2 linked regions of the Homo sapiens genome follow. The protein of the gene in region 2 interacts with the protein of the main gene of each other region in a biochemical or structural test. Each region holds a gene or a part of one and is shown on either strand. Other genes may lie near its edges.

Region 1 (11,441 bases), on a different chromosome or scaffold from region 2:
CAGAGAGTTGTAGCCCATACATTATCCTGCAAATATGGTTATTAAGAATTGGATAGAGCCAAGATGGGATAGAAGATCGTTAATTCTAAGTTCAAATTACAAAAGCAGAACATAGTAGTCTATGTTATGCAGTGGTGAAACCGCTCAACAAATTATCTCTTAGGCTGCATGGCCACTGAAAATGAAGCTCTAACTGAATGAAACTGGTAACTGCTGCCACTCAACAATTTAAAGAGTTTAAAGGATGAGAAAAGTTTTAGGACTTTGGGGGTGAGCTGACTACTTCAGACAGGATTGGGTAACTTAAACCATGAGAAATGTGTTCCCTAAATTTCATCTTAGAACAAGAAAAAAATACTGACTCATAGGCTAAGATTTCTTTGAAACAAATTTAAGAGTTTGAATCTGTGCATTGCTGGTCTCATTTGTAAACATTAGGCAACTGATAAGGGAAAGCTCTACAAGGAAAATGGGGACATCTATGTACTTCAACTTCTAAGGTGAAGTACTCCAAACCTCCAAATCCTCTGTAAACGCTATCAACAACACATAATCTGACAAGGAGTGTTTCTTGTAAACAACTGTATCTGCCTTGCCTGAGGAAACTGTCACTCCCTTGAGGAGGAAGCCATTAATTCCCTTATGCTCCACCCTTCATTGTTACTTAGGCCAGGATCCAATCCCAATTTGGAGACTGAAAGTCAAATTAAACTACCTGAAATTGAAATTAAACTACCTGACAGTGAAAGTTTGGCCACAAAATGAGTTACAGGCATTTGTTGATTTATACGGTCAAAAATACTAAAATTATTTTAGAAACGGAGGGTGCTCAACCGTAGAGATCAGATCAATAAAATTAAATCAGGCTTAATTTGCTGATGTAGGTATATGTGTCATTGTATTTTTGTGCAGCTATGTCAGACAGTTTGCTGGTTTGGTTAATGCTATTCTAAATCCAGTGCTATTCCATTTAAAAAGAAGTCAACATGGTCGAACCTCCTTTATATAAAGCAGAGTGTGAAAGGAAAATAAATCTCACCAAGCGAAAGGGAAAAGTCAAGCTGGAAACTGCATCAGGCAAACCTGCTTCCCATTTTATTCCTAAATAAGATAGCTACAAAGATAAAAAAGCTACAAACCTCCCTCACAATTTGCCCCCAAGAAAATTCCTCGTGGACCTCATGATCTTTACCCTAAAACAGTTCTGCTGATTTTCACCCTGGCAAAGTAAATTGATAGCTTATCCTCACAGGTGAGGGACAAAAAACAGAACTTAAAGTCATCCCTCTGCTCAACTGAGACAAATACTTATCTGATTGCTTCCTAGGCCCTACTGTTCATGTAAAAACGAAGATTCACTGAGCCACTCTAAGGCATAAATAACTATTCCTCTAAACTCCTCTCACATGTAAATTGTGTACTCAGTGAAAGGTTGATTAAAGACTCAGAAGAATGCAACCATTTGTCTTTTATCTACCTATGACCTGGAAGCCCCACCCCACCACCAACCCCACCCGACTTTGAGCTGTCCTGTCTTTTCAGACTGAAACAATGTACGACTTACATGTATTGACTGACATTTCAAGTCTCCCAAAAATGTATAAAATCAGCAGGGCGCGGTGGCTCACGCCTGTAATCCCAGCACTTTGGGAGGCCGAGGCGGGTGGATTACAAGGTCAGGAGATCGAGACCATCCTGGCTAACATGGTGAAACCCCGTCTCTACTAAAAGTACAAAAAAATTAGCCAGGCATGGTGGCAAGCGCCTGTAGTCCCAGCTACTGGGGAGGCTGAGGCAGGAGAATGGCGTGAACCCGGGAGGCGGAGCTTGCAGTGAGCCCAGATCGTGCCACTGCACTCCAGCCTGAGCGACAGAGTGAGACTCCATCTCAAAAAAAAAAAAAATGTATAAAATCAAGCTGTACCTTGACCACCTTGGTTACATGTCATTAGGACCGCCTGAAGCTGTATCACAGGTGCATCCTTAACCTTGGCAAAATAAACTTTCTAAATTGATTGAGATCTGTCCCAGATACTTTTGGTTTGCAAGAGGTAGAAACAGGACTATTGGAGCAAGGCGCCTTGTCAAGGGGTGGACAGGAAATGAACGCTAGAGCAACCAGAATTTCATCTTCCAGAACTTTAACTCTTAGACTTTGTATTAACACTTGTAGGTTGTTAATTCTAACAGCATCAGATGAGACTATACAATGGTTCTTGCTACAGAAACTCTAAAGTTGCACAGTTTCTGTCCTTTCAGGCTTCCTTTCAAACCTGTAGTTATTCCATATCATTCCTATAAAGACGTGCTTTTTACTTAAATTGGTAGGAACTGTTTTCTGTCGCTTGTAACCAAAAAACCCTAAGAAATACAATGTTCTTTCTCATTCTCCTCTTCCACTGGTGATCCTTTAAATAGCACAGGGCTCTATTTTTCACTCCTCTTTTTTCATTGCGCATTCTTCCTCTAAATATTCCACTTTCATAGCTTTAATCATCACCTATATACTGATTCATAAACATGTATCTCTACTTCAGATAGTTCCCTTTCCCATAGGAACCTTAAACTTGATCTGCCCAAAAGTGAACTCGACTTTCCTCACAAACTGTTTCTCCTCTATTTTCTATCTCAATGAAAATTCACCACCATTCACCCAGATTTTTACACCATAAACTGTTGAGTCTTAATTTGACTCTTTTCTGTTCTTCGTACTCTGTGCCTCCCCATTTTGACCCTTAACATTCAATTAATTATGACATTTTTTCCATTTTCCCTTATAACTCTGCAATCTTCTCATTCATCATGTTTGTTCAACATTATTATGTCTAATTGATTTCCTACTTCCAATATTTTCTCCTCCTAAAAAATACTCCATATCACAACTAGAATAGTCTAAATTAAAAAAAAAAAAAAAAAAAGGCCAGGCACAGTGGCTTACACCTGTAATCCCAGCACTTTGGGAGGCTGAGGCAGGCAGATCATAAGGTCAGGAGATTAAGACCATTCTGGCTAACATGGTGAAACCCCGTTTCTACTAAAAATACATAAAAAAAAAAAAATTAGCCAGGCGTAGTGGCAGGCACCTATACTCCCAGCTACTCGGGAGGCTGAGGCAGGAGAATGGCTTGAACCTGGGAGGTGGAGGTTGCAATGAGCCGAGATCACACCACTGCACTCCAGCCTGGAGCAACACAGCGACACTCCATCTCAAAAAAAAATTTAATTAAAAAAATTTAAAAATAATAAAAAATTTATCATTTTCTTGTATGTACTGTCTCAATGCTTCTCTATTGCCCTTGGGAGAAAGTCCGAATTCACCCATCTTTACAGTACACACCATCATACTACGCCATTTACAGTACAAATGGTGCCACGATTCTGTCACAATACACCTCTGTAACCCCATTTCCTTTGCCTAAAGTGCCCTTTCTAAACTCCTCTCCATTGCTAACTTCTATTTGTCTTTCAAATCTCAAACTGATATCCCCCGAGAGAAGCAGTTCCTGAACCTTCTAGACCTATGATGCCCAATATGATAGCCACCAACTATGCCTAGTTATTGAGCACTTGAATTATAGCTAGTCTGAATTTAGATGTACTGAAAGTGTAAAATACACCAGATTTTGAAGGCTTAGTATGGATAAAAAGTAAAATATCTTAGTAATATTTTTATATTGGTTACATGTGAAATAATATTTTGGACATATTCAGTTAAACAGAATATACTATTGAAATTAGTTTCATTTTTTAACTTTATGTGTCTAAAAGAAAACTCAAAACTATATGTGGCTTGTATCATATTTTAATTGGACACCACCTAGCCTAAATAAGCCCCTTTTTTCAGTGCCTTATAGTTATTTCTTTACTAGCATTTGTTTCATATTTTAAAATTACTAGACTGTCTTCTGCAATAGACTGCAAGCACCTTAGGAACCAGAGGCTGTCTTGGTCAACACAGTAATACCAGAGGTAAGGCTGCTAAAGTACACATAGTCAATCTTCATTATTTTTGGATTCCATATTTGCAAATTTGCATACTTGACATAATTTACTTATAATCTTAAAATCAATACTTGCAGTGCTTTTGAAGTCATTTGTGAACATGCACAGAGACTCGTGCCATCTAACGCACATTTAGCTGAGGTCAAACTCAGCCATGCTCTGCCTTCTTGTTTCAGTCGTCAAACTGTTAACCAGTATTCTTTTCAGTCTATTTATTGCCAGTTTTTGCATTGTTGTGCTTTTTGTTGGTGATTTCACCATTCAAAATGGCCCCCAAGCACTGTGCTGAAGAGCTGTCTAATGTTCCAAAACACAAGAAAGCTACAGTGTGCCTTACAGAGAGCATATGTTAGATAAGCTACCTTCAGGTATGAATTACATTGCTGTTGGCCATGAGTTTAATGTTAATGAACCAACAATATATAGGAAATCAGGTGTCTTTAAATGGAAACACACTAAAAATCACATATTAACCAATGTTGTGGCCCAGAGGCTCAGAGGAACCTAACCCTGTATTTCCCCTAGGAGCAATGGTTTAGTATTTGCCAATTCAGTGTTCTTACTGACTTCAGGAGAACTGACTGTATTTATTGAATGAGTAATGCTCAGTCATTTGATTCCAAACCCAAATCTTTTGTGAATGCAGTATATGGTGGTAGGTAGAGCAGTGACTCTGGAACCAAACTGCCTAGGTTCCAACCTTGGTTTTCCAACTTACTAGCTTTGTAATCTGGGGCAAATTGCTTTTCTCCTTTTTCCGTAACTAAAAATGCAGGTTAAAAAAGTACTGTTAATATTTGCCAGGGGCTGGGTGTAGAGGGAGGAAACTGAGAACAAAAAGCCACTAGAAAACTTTTGGAATGAGGGAAATATTCCATATCTTGATCATAGCAGATGATCAAGATATGTTTTTCAAAACTCATAAAAAGAAAAGGGACAAATTTTTCTTTATATGAATAACTTAACAAGGTTAAAAATAGAAAGCAGCAGTGACAAACAAAGGAATAATGCACATCAAAAATTTAGTACACTACCTGCCTATATAAATACTAAATACTATTAGCGATCATTGTAAAAACAATAGGGAAAAGTTAGGAGGTATAAGGAAAAGCAGAAAGAGCTAATGAACCAAGATTCTAATCTGGCTCTTTCTTTTTGGGGTGTTGGGGGTGGGGGGGGTGGTCTCACTCTGTCAGCCAGGTTGGAGTACAGTGGCCGGATCTCGGCTCACTGCAGTCTCCACCTCCCAGGCTCAAGTGATCCTCCCACCTCAACCTCCCTAGTAGCTGGGACCACAGGTGCACAGCACCATGCCCAGCTAAGTTTTCGTATTTTTGGTAGAGACGGGGTTTCACGATGCTGCCCAGGCTGATCTCGAACTCCTGAGCTCAGGGAACCCACCTGCCTCAGCCTCCCAACGTGCTGGGATTACAGGCATGAGCCACTGCTGTAATGGCTCCTTTGTATATTAGCTAGAGGCTGAATTCAGTACATGAGAGGGCAGTAACTTATTGCGAAAGTTAAATTGGACCTGTTTGAAAGATATGTGTAAACTGTAGAGTCATACAGGAATGTGAGATATGGGATTATTCATGAGACAGCAATAGGAAATCAAAGTTACCACATAAATGCGGGTGTGGGATGGGAAATAATTTCCTAGATCACCTCCCCAAGATAGGATACTGCGGTAGGTTGCGAAATGAAACTGTGAAGGGGGAGCACATCTCTTTTAAGAACCTTTCTATGGCAGTCTACAAGCTCTAGGTCAATTTTGAAGACCATCCAAGCGTTCTAATGTGCCAGGGTTAAACCCCAAACTCTAAGGAATGCCAATGCCAGGAGGAAAGAATGGATGAGTCGGCAGAACACCTCTCTGGACCCACAATGCCGTAGGAGTCAGACACCCTTCGCCTCCACAACTTCCCAACAGCCTTTGGTGTGAGAAGTGGGTTAATTCATTTCACTGCTGGCTTGTTAGCTGGCGGACGCTTCGGGAGTTCCCACCCCAGGGAGCAGTGCTGACTCTACAGGGGCATCCGGCGGCAGTCGCTGCCAAAAATCTCACCAAGGGGTGAATGGGGGGTCCTCAGGACCTGCGGTGCCGAGCTGGGTAATAAAATACTGCACCTGAATTCTTCTTTAAGGACCAGGAGGAGGTTCGAACCCCAAGAAAGGCTGCAAGCTGAACCAGAAGCTCGAACCCAAAGTTCGCTTCACAGCCAGCCACACTGGCACTCGCTGAATCTGCGCGCCTCGCGAGTTCTGACGATCGTCATGTGATAACTGCCACGCACCTGATGGCAGGGGCCATTGGGTGCTTTGCTTGGTTCCCATTAAAGTCGACTGCGACCCGAACGCAACAAACCTAAGAGTTGGAAGGCGCAAGTTCCTCTGCCAGCGAGCTCACCCTCGGCAACCAGACTGCTGAAAGTGCGCTCCACGCCGGAAGTGCACTAATCCGCAGCACGTGGGGTTGCCAGGGCGCTCTTCACGTGACTGGGCGGAGCCTCGGGAATCTGGTAGCCAATGGTAGCCCGAGAGGGCGGTGCCTGTGACGCTCCGGGGCCTATCCCGGAAATAGGGCTGAGTGGGGGCGGGTAAGGGCGGGGAGGCTGGGGTGTGGAAAGTGTGGCGGCCCCGCCCCGTCTCTTGGAACTGCCGCGGCCGCCACCGCCGCTGCCGGCGCCGCTGCTGTAGGGGACCAGCGCGGGTGCGCAGACGAAAGGCGCTCTTTGCCAGCTGAAAGGTGAAGACCTGGGGAAAAGCTGGTGGGGAAAAGCTGGTGGGGATGGGGCCAGAGTGAGGCAGGGCCGGGGAAGGCGCCCAGAACTGAGCGCTGACCGAGAGAAAGAAGGAGAATGGATGGGGGAACAGAGGCGAGCGCGGGACCCGCCGGGGCTCAGGCCCTAGTGGGGCCGGGCCGGGCCGAGCTGAGCCCTGGATGCCGGCAGAACAGGGGGCGCCTGTGCGGCCGCGGCGGCGACGTTGAAGGGTGGAGGGCGGGGTGCGCGCCAGCTAGCAGAGGGCCGGGTGCTGCTGGCCAGGTTCTGTTACCCCGCATCCTTCGCGGGGACCTGCGGCCTGGGCTGGGTCCCCCGCAGTAGGGTTCGGGGCGGCGGCCGAGGGCTGGGCGGCGGGGGAAGGTCGCCGGCTTCTGCGGTGGGGCGATGGGGGCCGCAACCTGCTGTTTCCAGCACGGAGGAGCGCCCAGGGCGGGTGTCCCCACCCTCAGCGAGCTCCTCTGCGACTTCTCATCCCACCTCCCCAAGCAGTAGCTGGAAAAGTTTGTAGAGGCCAGAGTTAGAAAGTGGCCACTAGTCTAGGGTGGGTGTTCCTTACATGCAGAAATAACGGGCCCATGATGCTTGGCACATAACTTGTCCGAAATGAGACGTTTCCCTGCCTACATACCCGTTGTTAAAAAGCAAACACAAACTTTTTGTGTAGTTCCCACGGAAAAACTACCATCTCCCCTGCCCACCATGGCAGACGAAATTGATTTCACTACTGGAGATGCCGGGGCTTCCAGCACTTACCCTATGCAGTGCTCGGCCTTGCGCAAAAACGGCTTCGTGGTGCTCAAAGGACGACCATGCAAAATAGTGGAGATGTCAACTTCCAAAACTGGAAAGCATGGTCATGCCAAGGTAAGTACCCTTGCAGATCAGGCTTTGGCTTCGGCGTTGGGACTTTGATCATTTGTATTCCGTTACAGATCATGAGATTTCTATACTTAAAATTTTGTAATAAGCACTATTTTTTCCTTCCCACAATTACTGGGTAATCAGTTATTACGTTGAATACTTAAAGGTAGCATTCCCTTCTTGGGCCCTTACAATGTTCATTAACTGGGAACTGAAACTTTCCTGAATCCTAGTGACCTATAAGATCTATTTAGTTTACAGATGAGAAAACCTGTTCTAGCAATTCTAAGAAATCTACACTTTATTTTTCTTGTGTAATCTCATAATTGAATCACTGGTCTATATTGGGTCTTGACATGTCGTGATACTGTTTAGTTGTTTACTGCCTCTTAATTGTAAGACCACTACATTTTTTTTTAAGTAAAATTAGATGACCTTGGAAGGAGGAGAAAAAGAATCTGTTGTAATCAGCATTGGTATTGTGCTCTTGTGTGTGTAATGAGTGATATACTTGGCAGAGATTAAACAGGTTTCCTGTTCTCCTCTGTTAGGTTCACCTTGTTGGAATTGATATTTTCACGGGCAAAAAATATGAAGATATTTGTCCTTCTACTCACAACATGGATGTTCCAAATATTAAGAGAAATGATTATCAAGTAAGCACTGATTTTCTTTAGAATGTTGCTTGTTTCTTCAAGGTGCAAATACTTTGTACTATCAGTAATAATTTGACAAAACCCAAGAGTAGTTTTGTAGGTTTTTCTAACCAATTATTAGGCACCAGCTATCTTAGAAATTGGAGAAATAGTGATGTTTAACACATGTACTTTTCTAGGATTATTGCTAGTTTGCTATTTTTTTCACATTCTTGCATTTTTTAAAAAGTCAAATACTTATTAGTGTTCTCAGGCCAAGTGACTGCATATTGCAATTAAGTCCAATGTTTAGTAAAAGTACTATTCTCTCTGTTGTAAAATATTTCTTGTTCTAATTTAAAACATCCCTCCTGGATGTTTTGTTTCTTTTCACTGATCAGACCTGAGACATTCAAGAAACTACTGAAATTCATGTTCCTACCAAGTTTTTGCATTAATGAATGTTAGTCAGAACTTGACATTCTTAAGTAGAGAAATAAGTTGAAAGCCATAAATATAAAGGATAAAGTACCTGGTCACTGAGTATGGTGAAGAAAACACAAAAACTATATAATTGGTTAAATTATACTTAGTGACCATGCTATGACCTTTTGCTAAATTATGTATGTAAATTTCAAGTTTTAGTTCCAGTTATACATTTGGGTAGGTCATATTTAATGATAGCATTTTGTTGTTTGAAGTATTGATGATAACAAAATAATTGACCTTATAGGATGTGGAAGCTCAGATTACTTATAACTAAAGCTTTTCTTGAAAGTCTTCAATTTCTGTATCAAGCATACCATATATCAAACTCATTTCTGCTCATTTTACATAGTGAAAAATACAAAGTTGACACTGGTATTTGTTTTATCCGACTTAAACTGATTTTTTTCTGTACCCTTTGTTGTATTGTATAAATTTCTTTTAATGTTGCTATCAACTGCACTTACGCAATGATTTCCTTTTGCTGTTTGTCCACATGCAAACATACTTTTTTGTGGTTTTAATCTAGTAAACACTTTTATATTTTCACTTTCCTACTTGTCATAAATGTTTTCTAGGTTGCTTTGAAGTCTTTGTAGAAATTTGAATTGTCTTGCAAGTGGGTTTTTTTAACCAGGTAGATCTGGGTTTGGATCTAGTTCTGTCACTTTCTAGTTGGATGATTTTGGACAAGTTATACACCTTTCTGAGCCTGTTTTCTCATCTACAAAATAGTGATAATAGGAGGATTAAATGAGAAAATGTACCCCATTAAGAACTCCATAAGTAGATACGTACCAAAAAGTGCTGTTCTGTTTCCCCCTTTTCCTATGTAAAAATTCTACTTAATCATTTCATTATTGTTGGAGCACCAACTTTGATGTGGTACATAGTAGGTGCTCGAAAAATATTTGTTAAATGTATATGTGATTACTGAATGTGGTAGAGATAGTACAGCAGGCTAAAGTTGAGCGTAGAATGTTGTCAAAATTGGGTTTCTCTTTTCGTCTTAAAGTATGAAAGCTTTGACTATTCAATATTAATTATATTCAGTAATATTCATTCAATATAGAATGCTTTTGCCTGTTGCATGTTTCAGAAAGATGGTATCAGCAGTTCAGATAATTACTATTATACTATGATAAGGTTAGCCAGTCATTGATTGGAGCTCAAGACTTAAAGGAAAAATTTGGTTTGGGTCCTAGACTAGGATGAGGCAAATGAAGTGAGGGAGGCTCTTGCCTCAGGCACAAAATTTTAAATAAAGACAGAACTAGTAACAATGACAAGCCATATAGGAGCTCAAGGCGCAAAGAAAATTAATTCTGATCCCATCTTTATTTAGAATTTTGGTATTTTATCATAGGATTTTTGCATTAATTCTAATTTTTTAAAATATTGCATTAAAATGCCTATCTGATCACTGAGGTTTTTTTGGTGCCTTCTTTAATTTTGCACCCAAGACAAGTGTCTTACTTCACCCTTGTCCCAACCCTTGGTATGTACTCCGCACTGCAAAGTGGATAAGAGGATGATTTAAGCCAGGCAGGCCTGGTCCTAGTCTTACTTTGGCACTTAATAGCTGTGTGACCTTGGTTGACAAGTTACTTAACCTGTTTTGCTTCCATTTCTTTCTTTATAAAGCAGAGACATAAATAATAACGCCTCATGGGATCATTTTGAGGTTTAATTAGTTAATACAACAACGCCTGGCATAGAAAGTATTCAGTATTTCTCTGCTCTTCATTTTCAAGTCAGCATAGAAAAATAACTTATTTCTGTTAATTGTTTAAAAAACTAGTTCTCCAACCTGGGCAATGTGGTGAGACGCCATCTTTACAAAATACAGAAAAAAAAAAATTAGCGAGGCATGGTGGTGTACACAGCTGTAGTCCCAGCAGACCCAGAGGCTGAGGTGGGAGGATCACTTGAGCCTTGGGAGGTCAAGGCTGCACTAAGCTGTGATCACTCCACTGCACTCTAGCCTGGGCGACAGAGTGGGACCCTGTCTCAAAAACAAAAGTTCTGTGGGCCTTTCTATTTATATTTATTGTGCTATGGTGGTCTTCACTTACCTAACCAAGTGCCTTGATTAAATATCTACTCATTATTTGGCGTGTGTAATCCTTTATGTTTGCTGAATTCAATATTTTGAGTGCCAGTTCGGCAGTTGGCTAAAGAGAAATATGTATTCTGTTCATTATGATAATTAAAAAGTAAACAGGAAACAAAACGTATTAATATTTATAGTTTTAATTTTATGTGTTTTAAAATAAGTTCAGAATGAAAGAAAAATTGTCTCCTAACTTCTCTTTCAAGATTAGCTTGGATTAGAATTGCTCATTTACATTACTTCTCCCAAAAGTAGTTATAGATGTCCGGGACTGAGTGATGTTGAAAATTATAAATGCATCCAGATAGACCTTTGGGAATCCCCAAATTCATACAGAAATGCTTATTCAGACTTTAGCACTCTCTGGAATCATATTTCTTTAGAAAGTTCTGTGTTGATATGAACTTCACCACAAGTTAAATGCCGTTTCTGCATTTACTACAGTTTTACCTGTCATTTGAAAACCATTTTCCAGAAGGAAGACTAATTACTATAGACACATAAAGTATATATTGTAGACCTTTGGATTATTAGTGAATTGCCAAAACTGTGACTATTAAA
Region 2 (11,585 bases):
AATTCAGTATCAAAAAAAAAAAAAAGTAAATTTTATGGTATGTGAATTATATCTCAGTAAAGATTTTTTAATTGTCTTTAAATTTCCTTTCTCTTGCTACATGTCTACTGCCTCTGCAGGTCCACATCAGCCAACAAGGCTTTCTTGAGTTTAATTGTGAGAATTGTTATTACCAACATAATAGGCACAAAAGTATTTTTTCTACAACAGAAAGGAGGAGGGAACAACCCCTAGAGTTTAATATGGGAAAGGTATCAATTATTTCAATATATTATTTTTGCTTACAAAGACATAAGAGGGGAAGCTTTATCTAATGCTTTGATCAGAAATGAAATATTATAACTTCAAAAGTTCTGACTATTGATAAAGTTGGAAATCTTAAGTGGGTGGATCTTCTGTCAAGGAAAATACCCCATGCACCTCTCTGGTTTTGAAAGAAAGGTCCAAGATTTAGAGACGAAAGGAGACGGGGGAAATCCCAAGCATGCCTTATAAAACAGTAGATGCTCCTATTTAAGATAGCAAATTAAGAGAGAGCGATTGGCCGGGCATGGTGGCTCACACCTGTAATCCCAGCACTTTGGGAGGCTGAGGCAGATGGATCACCTGAGGAAGGAGTTCGAGACCAGCCTGACCAACATGGTGAAACCGCATCTCTACTAAAAATACAAAAATTAGTGGGGCGTGGTGGCGGGTGCCCATAATCCCAGCTACTCGGGAGGCTGAGGCACAAGAATCGCTTGAACCCAGGAGGCAGAGGTTGCAGTGAGCCAAGATGGCGCCACTGCACTCCAGCCTGGGCAACAAGAGCAAAACTCCACCTCAAAAAAAAAAAAAAAAAAAAGAGAAAGCGATTGAAGCCTGTAATATGGCTGCAAGTTTGGAACCTGGCCAGTAAACAGTAGATTCTCCGTGGCAGAGAACAGCAGATGAATTTTGAGAACAGTGGTGTCTAACACTCAAGTTTGAACTTGTTGCCTGTTCTGTAACTACTTTTGAGAATCCCAAACCTTCTATCAAAGTTAAGACACAACACCCTTACAATAACTGTATTTTGCCAAGCATGAATAAAAAGAACCTTGAAAATAAGCCCTCAGAGCCCCTCCTGAAGACTGACAACTGAGCAAGAGTTTTGGATGAGGCATGATAAGAGAACCTAAACATTCTTCTTCCCTTCGGAAATTCTTAGAAATTTGAGAAAGACGCTAAATCTCTAATCAGCATCGCCTTGGGTTTGAATCACTTTATCTGGATATGAAAGAAAACAGTGACCAGGCACAGTGGCTCACACCTGTGATCCTAACACTTTGGGAGGCCAAGGTGAGAGGACAGCTTAAGCCCAGGAGTTTGAGACCAGCCTGGGCAACACAGTGAGACCTTATCTCCACAAAAAATAAAATAAAATCAGCCAAGTGTGGTAGGACACACCTGTAGTCCCAGCTACTTGGGGTGCTGGGGTGAGAGGATCGTTTGAGCCTAGGAGGTCAAGGTTTCAGTGAGCTGTGATCGCACTGCTGCACTCCAGCCTGGGTAATAGAGCGAGACCCATCTTAAAAACAAACAAGCAATGCAGAAGATTGGTCTTAAGGACATTCAGATTACATTTCAGTTTCCAAACATACTTTTTTTTTTTTTTTTTTTTTTTTGGAGACCAAGTCTCGCTCTGTCTCCCAGGCTGGAGTGCAGTGGCGCAATCTCAGCTCACTGCAACCTACGCCTCACAGGTTCAAGTAATTCTCCTGCCTCAGTCTCTCAAGTAGCTGGGATTACAGGCGTGTGCCACCACACCCCACTATTTTTTTGGTATTTTAGTAGAGACAGGGTTTCGCCATGTTGGGCAGGCTGGTCTTGAACTCCTGACCTCAAGTAATTAGCCCGCCTTGGCCTCCCAAAGTGCTTGGATCACAGGTGTGAGCCACGGAGCCCAGCCGGTTTCCAAATATACATTTTAATTATAATTCTGAATATCCTTTTCTTTTTTTTTTTTTTTTTTGAGACGGAGTCTCGCTCTGTCGCCCAGGCTGGAGTGCAGTGGCGGGATCTCGGCTCACTGCAAGCTCCGCCTCCCGGGTTCACGCCATTCTCCTGCCTCAGCCTCCCAAGTAGCTGGGACTACAGGCGCCCGCCACTACGCCCGGCTAATTTTTTGTATTTTTAGTAGAGACGGGGTTTCACCGTTTTAGCCGGGATGGTCTCGATCTCCTGACCTCGTGATCCGCCCGCCTCGGCCTCCCAAAGTGCTGGGATTACAGGCGTAAGCCACCGCGCCCGGCCCCTGAATATCCTTTTCTAATCATACTTCTTAAACATGCTAGTCTCTCCATATTAAGAATCACTGTTCTAGGTCCTACAGGTCAAAATATCAGGATTTCAAGACAAGATTGCAGACTTCAAAGGTGTCTTCCCTAATCTTTTCATTGGTACATTCATTTCATCCTAATGAAAAGAGGATGGATTCTAACAGAAATGGTGAAGACTTACTTTGAATTATAATACTAGGCGAACACATCAAAGCTGAATATATCAGCCAATCTACAGGAGAGAACTGTCAACATATGAAGGAGACAGCTAATTGGCTCTTCTATGCAAAGTCAGCTTTTAAAATGACAAACTCTTTTCTCCCAAGATAAAAGCATGCCCAAATGGCTACAAATTAAAGATTACAACACAGAGGAAGCTCGTACTTTCAACCTCTCTTGACAACAATTACAGTACTTTGGATTTAACTCAATGGCCTTAATTGGTATATACCAATTTTAAAACTGCCTTATTGTAATCCTGAGGTATGCTTTGAACTCTTGAGGCTTTCAGGAAAGGCATGAAAAGGCCCAAAATAAAATATAAAACTGAATCTCAATTTGCTGTCTTACACAGAAAGTTCTGCTTCTTCCCAAGATTTTTATTCCTTGTCTAGACTCTACACTAAAAAAGTATTAAGATTAAATGTTATTCTTTGAATTAACTACAAATATTGTGGAGAGGGAAGTAGAAATAAAATGAAAAACTGGCAGGGTAGTGGTGGTGGTGGTTGGTGGTCTAATGATACACTAATAGACCAGCAAGCTCACATAATCTAGAAATAATTTATTTTTCCCAACTTGCTCAATTGCTATTATCCACATTAATGGATTTTTTCGTTTTTAGTATTTCATAAATTTGTCTTATCTCTCCTACCTTCTAGTGTTCTTAGGTGCAAGAAGGTTGTGATGTGCCTTACAGAGAAAAAAATGTGTATTAGGTAAGTTTCTTTCATGCATGAGTTATAGTGTTGGCTGTGAGTTCAATGTTAATGAATCAACAAGCGGGTACATCCAAAATATGGAACAGGAAATCTGCTGATCTGTATGTGAGGCCTCCCCTGGAGAGAGCTAAAGTAATATCCAGAGTACATAATGAAGCTATAGATACAATGGAAAAGCAATTAAATCTGTGGATTCATGAGATGACAACCCATAAAAAATAAAAATCACAGTGGATAGCACTGATGTGAGGCTGAAAGCCAAAAACACTGTCACATTACACAGGGTCAAGAAAATGTTAAACCCTTCTCAACTAGTGTTTTATTACCAAGAAATATTGTGTATATTAGTAAGAAATATATATTAAATAGGCTGTCTAGACAGAAACACACATAAAAAAAGGTTATGCGTCAGCTGGCTGATAAAAATCTCTTGACCACAGCCTACAAGAACCTAATCCTGTATTTCCTCAGAAACAATGGCTCTGTATTCACTAATATGGTATTCACCATGACTTTACAGAACCTAACTATATACAGAGTATAACAAGTCCCTTCTTTGTTTACTTAAGCTTATTTATTTATGCTTGTTTGAATCAGGTTTCTTTCACTTGCAATAAAAAGAAACTCCTGACTGATAATATTAATAATGACATTATTAATAATAACAGCAGATAAGACCTGATTTGAGCTTACTCTGAGTCTGGTACTTTTCTATGTGCTTCACAGATGTTGGCTCATTTCATCTTCTATGAGACAGGTACTGCCATTATCTCTAATTTACAGATGAAGAAAGTGAAACTAACAAAAAAAAGATGAAGTAAAGGAAAAGAAAGAGACACTATGCTGTGCTGTATAGTAAGGAGCTTAGAAAGTAGATAACCAAAAGGCCAGACTTCCCAATGTGTCTGCACCACTCTCCAGAGAAAACAGGGACCCTGATCAGTCAACCTGGCTATCTGACCCGCTAAGTAATTCTTTCCTAAAAGTGGATGGGTGGATCAGATTCCATAACAGTTGTCACTAAATTCACCCAACCAATTGCCTTGCTTAGCAAGCAACCTTAAATAACTTGGTTTCTAGGGCAGATTCTACTACAGGGATAGAATACTGTGACCAGGTAACCAAAGCATCTCAGTCTTATTAGGATTTCTAATTCTCATTATTAATTTGGCGTCCTGGGTCTATCAGCTTTTTTTGTAGTTTATCTGGCACGAGTCAGTCCTTGAGAGTCATCTGAGTTCTGGGTGCTTTGGCCAAGCACAATCCTGTGTAAACAGCCTGAAGTATGGCCTCATCCCTGACTGACTAGTAAAAACAATTTATGAAAAAAGATAATAAAAAGGACTATTGTTCAAGAAAACTTCAAAAATTCTTCCAACTGAGTTACAGTAATGGAATCTTCAATTGGTCAAATAAAAACTGCCCACCAAGAGAATTAAATAGCAACCACAAAAAAGATGTGTATCTGTAAATAAACTATCAATCCTAACTATAAATACGGCCTAGGTCATCACAATGCTCTGCCGGAACTAAAGAAAAAAGCAACTAAAATCATCTAGCTTTCAGGAGAGAAGTTCAACACATTGGAGAGAAGCCAGCCATTAGCACAGCTTTCACTTCAAAGTACACTCCAGTTGGACCCCTAAATCTTGTAGCTGCTGATGTCCATGACTTTAAAGGTCTAGTTTCAGCAACGGTCTGCATCGCTGGGCATTTTGATCTCCAAGGTCCTTACACCCATTTTTCCTCATTCACTCTCTTGCTTGCTCCTAGAAGAGCAGAATCTTTTATTTTCCTTCAAAATACACAATTATGAAATTCGCTGCAAAATATAGGACTACACTTCCCTCAGCACCTACACCAGCCCCGCTTGGCTGCATTTCCTGCCTCTTATTTCCCCATGACAAAACAAAAGGAAGGACTACTTTTGAAGTACAACTTTCTCTCAATGTCAACCTGGCACTTTCCTGAGTCCTTCTCATCTATTCTTGGTAAGAGATTCAAGATAATCTTAGCAGAGCTTAAGGGTCAAAGGAACTAAAATCCAAGCCCTACATTAACCACGTTAGCTGTGAAACCTGAGGAAAGATGTTTACCCACCTTAAGCTCCAAAATCAGGAGAAGGTGCTAGAGTGTTGTGAGGATTAATGAGAAAATGCATGTAAAAAGGGCTTAGCATGGTGCCTGGCATGTAGTAGTAAGTGACCAGTAAATGTCAGCTGCTTTAGTCAATGTTACTCCTACTCCTAGTGCTCTTCTTTGAGATTTCAGCAGACAGGACAATTCCCAAAAGAGGATGGGATTGTGACTCCTGTCTTCCTCACTGCAATTAGCACTAGCTGCATTCTGCCAAATCTGCACTACAGCAAAGTAGCATCACAACCATCTGCCATAACTTTCATGAAAGGGATTTGAGGTTGATAGGAGGAAGTTTTTTTGTGTGCATTTGCTTTTAAATTCTGGAGAGGGCATGGGTGGAGGGCGGTGGGGAGATAAATCTCTTTTTACTAGCTCTAGTGAGTTGAATGCTAAACGACAACCTTCAGTTCCTAAACTTTGTCTTATGATAAGACTATGCGACTATGCACACAGCAGCCTAACAACTCATTCTTATCCCTTTGTTTGAAAGGCACTGAGACCAAAATAACACTCAGGCAGGACTTCTAATCTCATTTAAAATAGGGATAAGCTTCCTTTCAAGTAAGCTTAGAAGCAATTACCTGAATGTTGTATATATGAAGAGGGTCTCTTTCAACAGCAGGAAAAGACAATGTCCAAAACCTTCAGTGCTTTGCAGATACTCCCCAAATTCAGGCTTTAAATAAATGTAGGGCCAAAACTAAAATGCAGAATTAACTCTGGTAACAAAGAAGATTCATTTTAATGACTTGCCTTATTATCAAAAATGTTCCTACCAAAGACAGAAATGTCATAGAAGGCAAAGAGAAGTTTTCAACAACGTGAATCCACTCCTTGCTGTTTTCTCTCTCCTCCACTTTAGCTGGACTTTGGTCCTCTGACCCCCTCAGCCAACACAGGAAACACTCCTACCCTTCCCCGGATCATCCCCTCTAAGGTGGTGCCTTCTTCACTACCTGGTGCTAGGCTTTGTGAAGCTGGAAGAATGACTTCTCTGCAGTCTGCTTAAGCTGTGGACTGCCTTCAAAAGACACCAACGAGACTGGCAAGAATTGAAAAGTCTAACAATACCAAGTCAAGGATATACAACAGCCAGGGCCCTCATAGACAGCTGGTGGGAATATAAACTGGCATAAGCACTTGGCAAAACAAGTTGGCATTCTCCAGTGAAGATGAAGATGTGGATACCTCCCCACACAGTAATTTCACTGCTGGGCATATGACCAGCATTATCCAACTTATTAAGCATCTATGGTGCTCCTGTACTATACTAATAAATGGAGATACAAAGATGAGTAAAATCTGGAAACTTGGAACTTTCTGTGATAATGGAAATGCTATATATTTGCACTGTCCACTATGGTAGCCAGTAGGTATATGTGGCTATTGAGTACTTGAAATGTGACTAATACAAGTGAAGAACTGAAATAGTTAATATTTTATTTTAATAAATTTTAATGTAAGTAGCCCTAGGTGACTAGTGGCTATCTTACAGTCCAATGCAGTGAGAAACTCATGAACATATGCACCAAGATACACGTATAAGAATGTTCATTCCAGCATTATTTGAAATAGGAAAAAAACAAAAAACAAATATCCATCAATAAGAAAACAGATAGTGTGGCACATGCATAAAACAGAACACTGTACAGCAGTAAAAAATAAACTCCATCTATAAGCATCATTGTAACTAAATCTTAAAAAGTGTTGAGTCACAGAAGAATTCAGAGTATGATGCATTTTTACAAAATTCAAACACAACTATAACAAATATATTATTTGGAGATTAAGAATCATCAGTGGTAACAAAGCTATGAAGAAAAGCAAATCACAAACACAAAATAGCGGGTAATGATTGTGGAGGCAGTAGGAATAGAGGGAACAATCTGGAAGGAGCACAAAGGGAGACATTTCAATAGCATGGCTGATATTCTGCTTCTGTCCTTTTATTGTTGTTTCTTAACATATATGACATGCATTATTTTATGCTTACAAATACTTCACAAAACAAACAAAAATGCAAAGCGCTGTTGAGGCAGTATGGCTGCTTCTCCTACCTCCTCCACTAACACCCTGCCAACGTGCAGACTGGGAGTTTCTCCATGAAGGAACCAGGTTTTACTCATCTTTGTGCCTTCCATTCTCAGCAGAGTACAAGAGCACAGCAGAGGCTTGATAAATGCCTAGTGAACTGACCCCCATTCTTAGAAAACCTGAATTTCCACCACCTCAACTTGTAACCACTTTTATTTTCCAGATAATGTTAAAGATCCCCCACCCTGAGTAATAATAAAACCAGTTCACTTACACAGAAACACATGTCCCTGCCACCAACAAGTACTATTTCTAAATGGAGTAAATGTCTAAAGGGGACAGAGTTATATTATCAAATTTACCACCTTATTAAAAGTCCATTTGATCTAACCTCTAAGCAAAAGACTTACATTCCTAAATTCATTTTAATGGCAGCTAAGGCCTTCAGAGGCCAAGTAACTTTGGTCCACTAAGAATTAAGTGCTTGGCCAGGCGCGGTGGCTCACGCCTGTAATCCTAACACTTTGGAAGGCCGAGGCAGGCGGATCACGAGGTCAGGAGATCAAGACCATCCTGGCTAACACAGTGAAACCCCGTCTCTACTAAAAATACAAAAAATTAGCTGGGCGAGGTGGTGGGCACCTGTAGTCCCAGCTACTCGGGAGGCTGAGGCAGGAGAATGGCATGAACCCCGGGGGGCGGAGCCTGCAGTGAGCCGAGATCCCGCCACTGCACTCCAGCGTGGGCGACAGCCAGACTCCCTCTCAAAAAAAAAAAAAAAAAAAAAAAAAAAGAATTAAGTGCTTGAAGCAGAGACCAGAAACCAGGTCTCCTACTTCTTGGGCTCACCTTGTTCTCTTCACTATCTTAGAGCAGCAGGAAGGCACTGAGATTTGTTTAGGTCCCTCTCTAGGTAGCTACCCTAGCTTGAGTTGATGAGAGTATTAAACAGGATAATGCATGTAAAGGACTCCATTTACAAGATGAAAAACTGAGGTCCAGAAAAATTAAGTAACTCACCACAGGTCACACACTTGGCATTGGACTAGAAGCCAGAAATATTCCACACCTTGCAGTTCTGCAAGTTAAAGAAATAATAAATAACATTAGTATGGAACTCTGTTGTGTCTTCATGTTACTGTAAACAAAAAGACAGGAGTTAACCTCTGAAAATAAGAATATCTTTAAATTACTCAATCTTGAATATTCCCCACGCATTGTATCTCAAGACAGGAGTTTGGTTAAATACCAGTAAGATAACCTCTAACCAGTTATAAAGACATCAATCACCTCTAAAAGTGAACTAGAGATATAGATATCACCTTATAAAAATTCCTGACATTTGATAGGGAGTAGTAAAAATGGAATTACTTTAAAATCTCCCATTTTTGTTAGAGAAAATTTTGGAAAATAATTAAATTTTGTCTATTTTCTTTATTTTTCCATGTATGACACATAGCAGCTTGTTTTGCCACAACTGTTATGAAGACTGTCTCCTTTCATTCCTTTTCTTTTTTTTTTTTTTTTTTTTTTTGAGACAGAGTCTGGCTCTTTCACCCAGGCTGGAGTGCAGTGGCCGATCTCGGCTCACTGCAACCTCTGCCTCCCAGGTTCAAGCGATTCTCCTGCCTCAGCCTCCCAAGTAGCTGGAATTACAGGCGCCCGCCACCACGCCCAGCTAATTTTTCTATTTTTAGTAGAGAAGGGGTTTCACCATGTTGGTCAGGCTGGTCTCCAACTCCTGACCTCAAGTGATCCACCCGTCTCAAGCCGCCCAAAGTGCTGGGATTACAGGTGTGAGCCACTGCGCCCAGCCAGTCACTGCACCCGGTCTTTCCCTTTTCATTACCACATCCTCCATCATGCAAAATGAGAAGAGATCATCTCAGAGAGATACCTAAAGTATCTCAAAAGAAAAAGTCCTCCATGATTTTAAGATATTTTTGTCAAGCACTTTAGGAGGCCCAGGCGGGTGGACAGCCTGAGCCCAGGGGTTGGAGATCAGCCTGAGCAACATGGCAAAACCCCGTTTCGTCTTTTGGCGAAACCAAAAACTACAAAAAATTAGCTGGGCATGGTGGTGCACGCCTGTGGTCCCAGCTACTTTGGAGGGTAAGGTGGCAGATTCGCTTGAGCCTGGGAGGCGGAGGTTGCAGTGAGCCGAGATCGCACCAGTGCACTCCAGCCTGTGCAACAGAGCGAGACCCCCCATCTCGAAAGAAAAGATATTGTCATAACTTTATTTCTACCTCTCTATGCAGAAAATCCCATTCGATCTGGAGAATAGTACTTTTACTTATAAAACTGAAGCATAACTATCTTGTGTCTCCAGTAGGGGTACTACTACTCTCATTAAGTATAAAAAAAGTTTTTAATTGGTCATACAAATCTTAAGAAATTTAAATTTGGTCTTCAGAATGAAATGCTATAACGAATGGCTTCAAGCACACAACATGGAACATTCTGAAATCCCTGTTTCTTTTTCAAAAAGTAAACTCCAGCTACTTACTGAACAAGAACTGGATGCTAGTGCTAATGTGCTAATTTTGTTTTTCATGCCAAAGGAGTTCTGCCAAAGAGGTTTCTAACCTGTCCTCCTTGTTCCCTGCATTATACTTTTTACAGAAAGTTCCTAGCCTCGAAGGCGGTACGACCATGATGTAAAATATGTAATTCAATTATTTTGCTTTAGGATATGCAATCCATGTACTTTGCTTTTCTGATTTATAATGCTACTCCCTCCTCCCCCAGGGTAAAGGAAAGTACAAAAGGAGAGAGCTTCACAGTAATCTGCCGACTAAAACATGATACCCGATCACCGCATTTAAAACTTTTTATTTTTTCATTTCTCTCAAGTCTAGAGTTGAAAAATCAGCTCACTTGATCTTATCTAATCATCAAATAAAAGGTTCTAGAAATAGCTTCTTATTTGTGGAAAGAGCCAGAAGACACATACAAATGGAAGAGAGCTCTTGAATCGTCTTTCCCAAAGCATTCTATGCGTGATGAATGCAAGCAAAATCCTGGAAGGCTTTTCTCTGAATTAGGTACTTCCTAATTGAGCTCATTTGAAAGCTGATGTAAAATGCAATCAGAAAGCAGCCAGAAACAGTGACAGACCAACAGCAAAGTTCAAATACTTATTCCCTGGAGCTCATGCTGCATACACATATTCCGTGCACAGTCGCATTAGGTACTGTCTCCATAGGCTCACCTGTTTCAGGTTACACATGCTCCTCTCGGTCTGGTTGCCCTGGTTTGCCCACTCCACACATTCACAAATGACTCAAGTCTCACCTGCCCCCGGCCGTCCCAGCTCCTGACACCCCCGCGTCGGTCCGCACCGACGTGTCGGCGTACACACACACACACACCCGTACACACGTGTCCGCACACACCCTCGCCCCCGGCCCCGCCCAGGAGGCGGACCCGGGAGAGGCGAGCCGGCCCGGCCTCCGCGAAGTGGGTGGTGCCGGGCCCCGCAGCCCTGCCGGCGCTGTCATCGCGGACGCCGTGCACCGCGTCCTCGGCGCAAACTCCTCGCGGCCGCTGAGGTTCCCCAAAATGCCAGGGCCTCGCCAGCTCCCATTTCAATTGAAAGCGTCCGCGCCCCTCACTGCACGGAGGTCCCTGGAACCCCAGAATTTAAATAGGGGCAGGGGGCGAGCATAGGGACTATCCTCCTTTTGACTTTCTGCGTCGCAATTCCTCCCGGGCGGCAGGGCGGGAGGGCGGCCGAGCGCGGGCGGGAGGCGCTCCCATTTTGAAGGCTTGTCTCGCCTTTCCCGGCGCGGGGCTCTCTGACCGGAGGGCGAGCCCACGAGAACGCCAGGGAGGCGTACGCAGGGTACTAAGGGCGCCGCGCCCCAACCTCCCCGCGCCCCAGACCCAGGTCGTCTCTGGAGGTGCCTGCAGCCCCCGCCGCCGGAGCCACGGGAGGAGCCGCAGCCGCCCCTCCGGGAGCCGCGCGCTGACTGCAGTGCCAGGCGGAACGCGGCCCAGCGCGGCTGCAGCTCCGCCGTACCCCCCTCCCTGGAACCCCGGCCCCCGCCCTGCGCACCTCGGCAGCAGCCGAACCGCAGCTTGGGACTCCGACTGTCACAGCCCCTCTCGCCGGACCCGGGGTTTCTCCGTTTTCGGCGTCACAATAATAAGGAAGTTTCCCCGCAAG

What was found.
Region 1: the proteins of HERC3 (region 2) and EIF5A2 form a complex in vitro, tested with the Homo sapiens proteins (one study listed by BioGRID).

Annotation. Positions count from the first base shown.
Region 1 is NC_000003.12:170,903,850-170,915,290, reverse strand, and holds the start of EIF5A2 (eukaryotic translation initiation factor 5A-2), read left to right. Parts: upstream 1-6,653; 5' UTR 6,654-6,748; intron 6,749-7,449; 5' UTR 7,450-7,484; coding exon 7,485-7,649; intron 7,650-8,197; coding exon 8,198-8,302; intron 8,303-11,441. UniProt on the Homo sapiens protein: Translation factor that promotes translation elongation and termination, particularly upon ribosome stalling at specific amino acid sequence contexts.
Region 2 is NC_000004.12:88,592,464-88,604,048, reverse strand, and holds the start of HERC3 (probable E3 ubiquitin-protein ligase HERC3), read right to left. Parts: upstream 11,570-11,585; 5' UTR 11,475-11,569; intron 8,493-11,474; 5' UTR 8,435-8,492; intron 6,100-8,434; exon of another isoform or gene 5,962-6,099; intron 1-5,961. UniProt on the Homo sapiens protein: E3 ubiquitin-protein ligase which accepts ubiquitin from an E2 ubiquitin-conjugating enzyme in the form of a thioester and then directly transfers the ubiquitin to targeted substrates.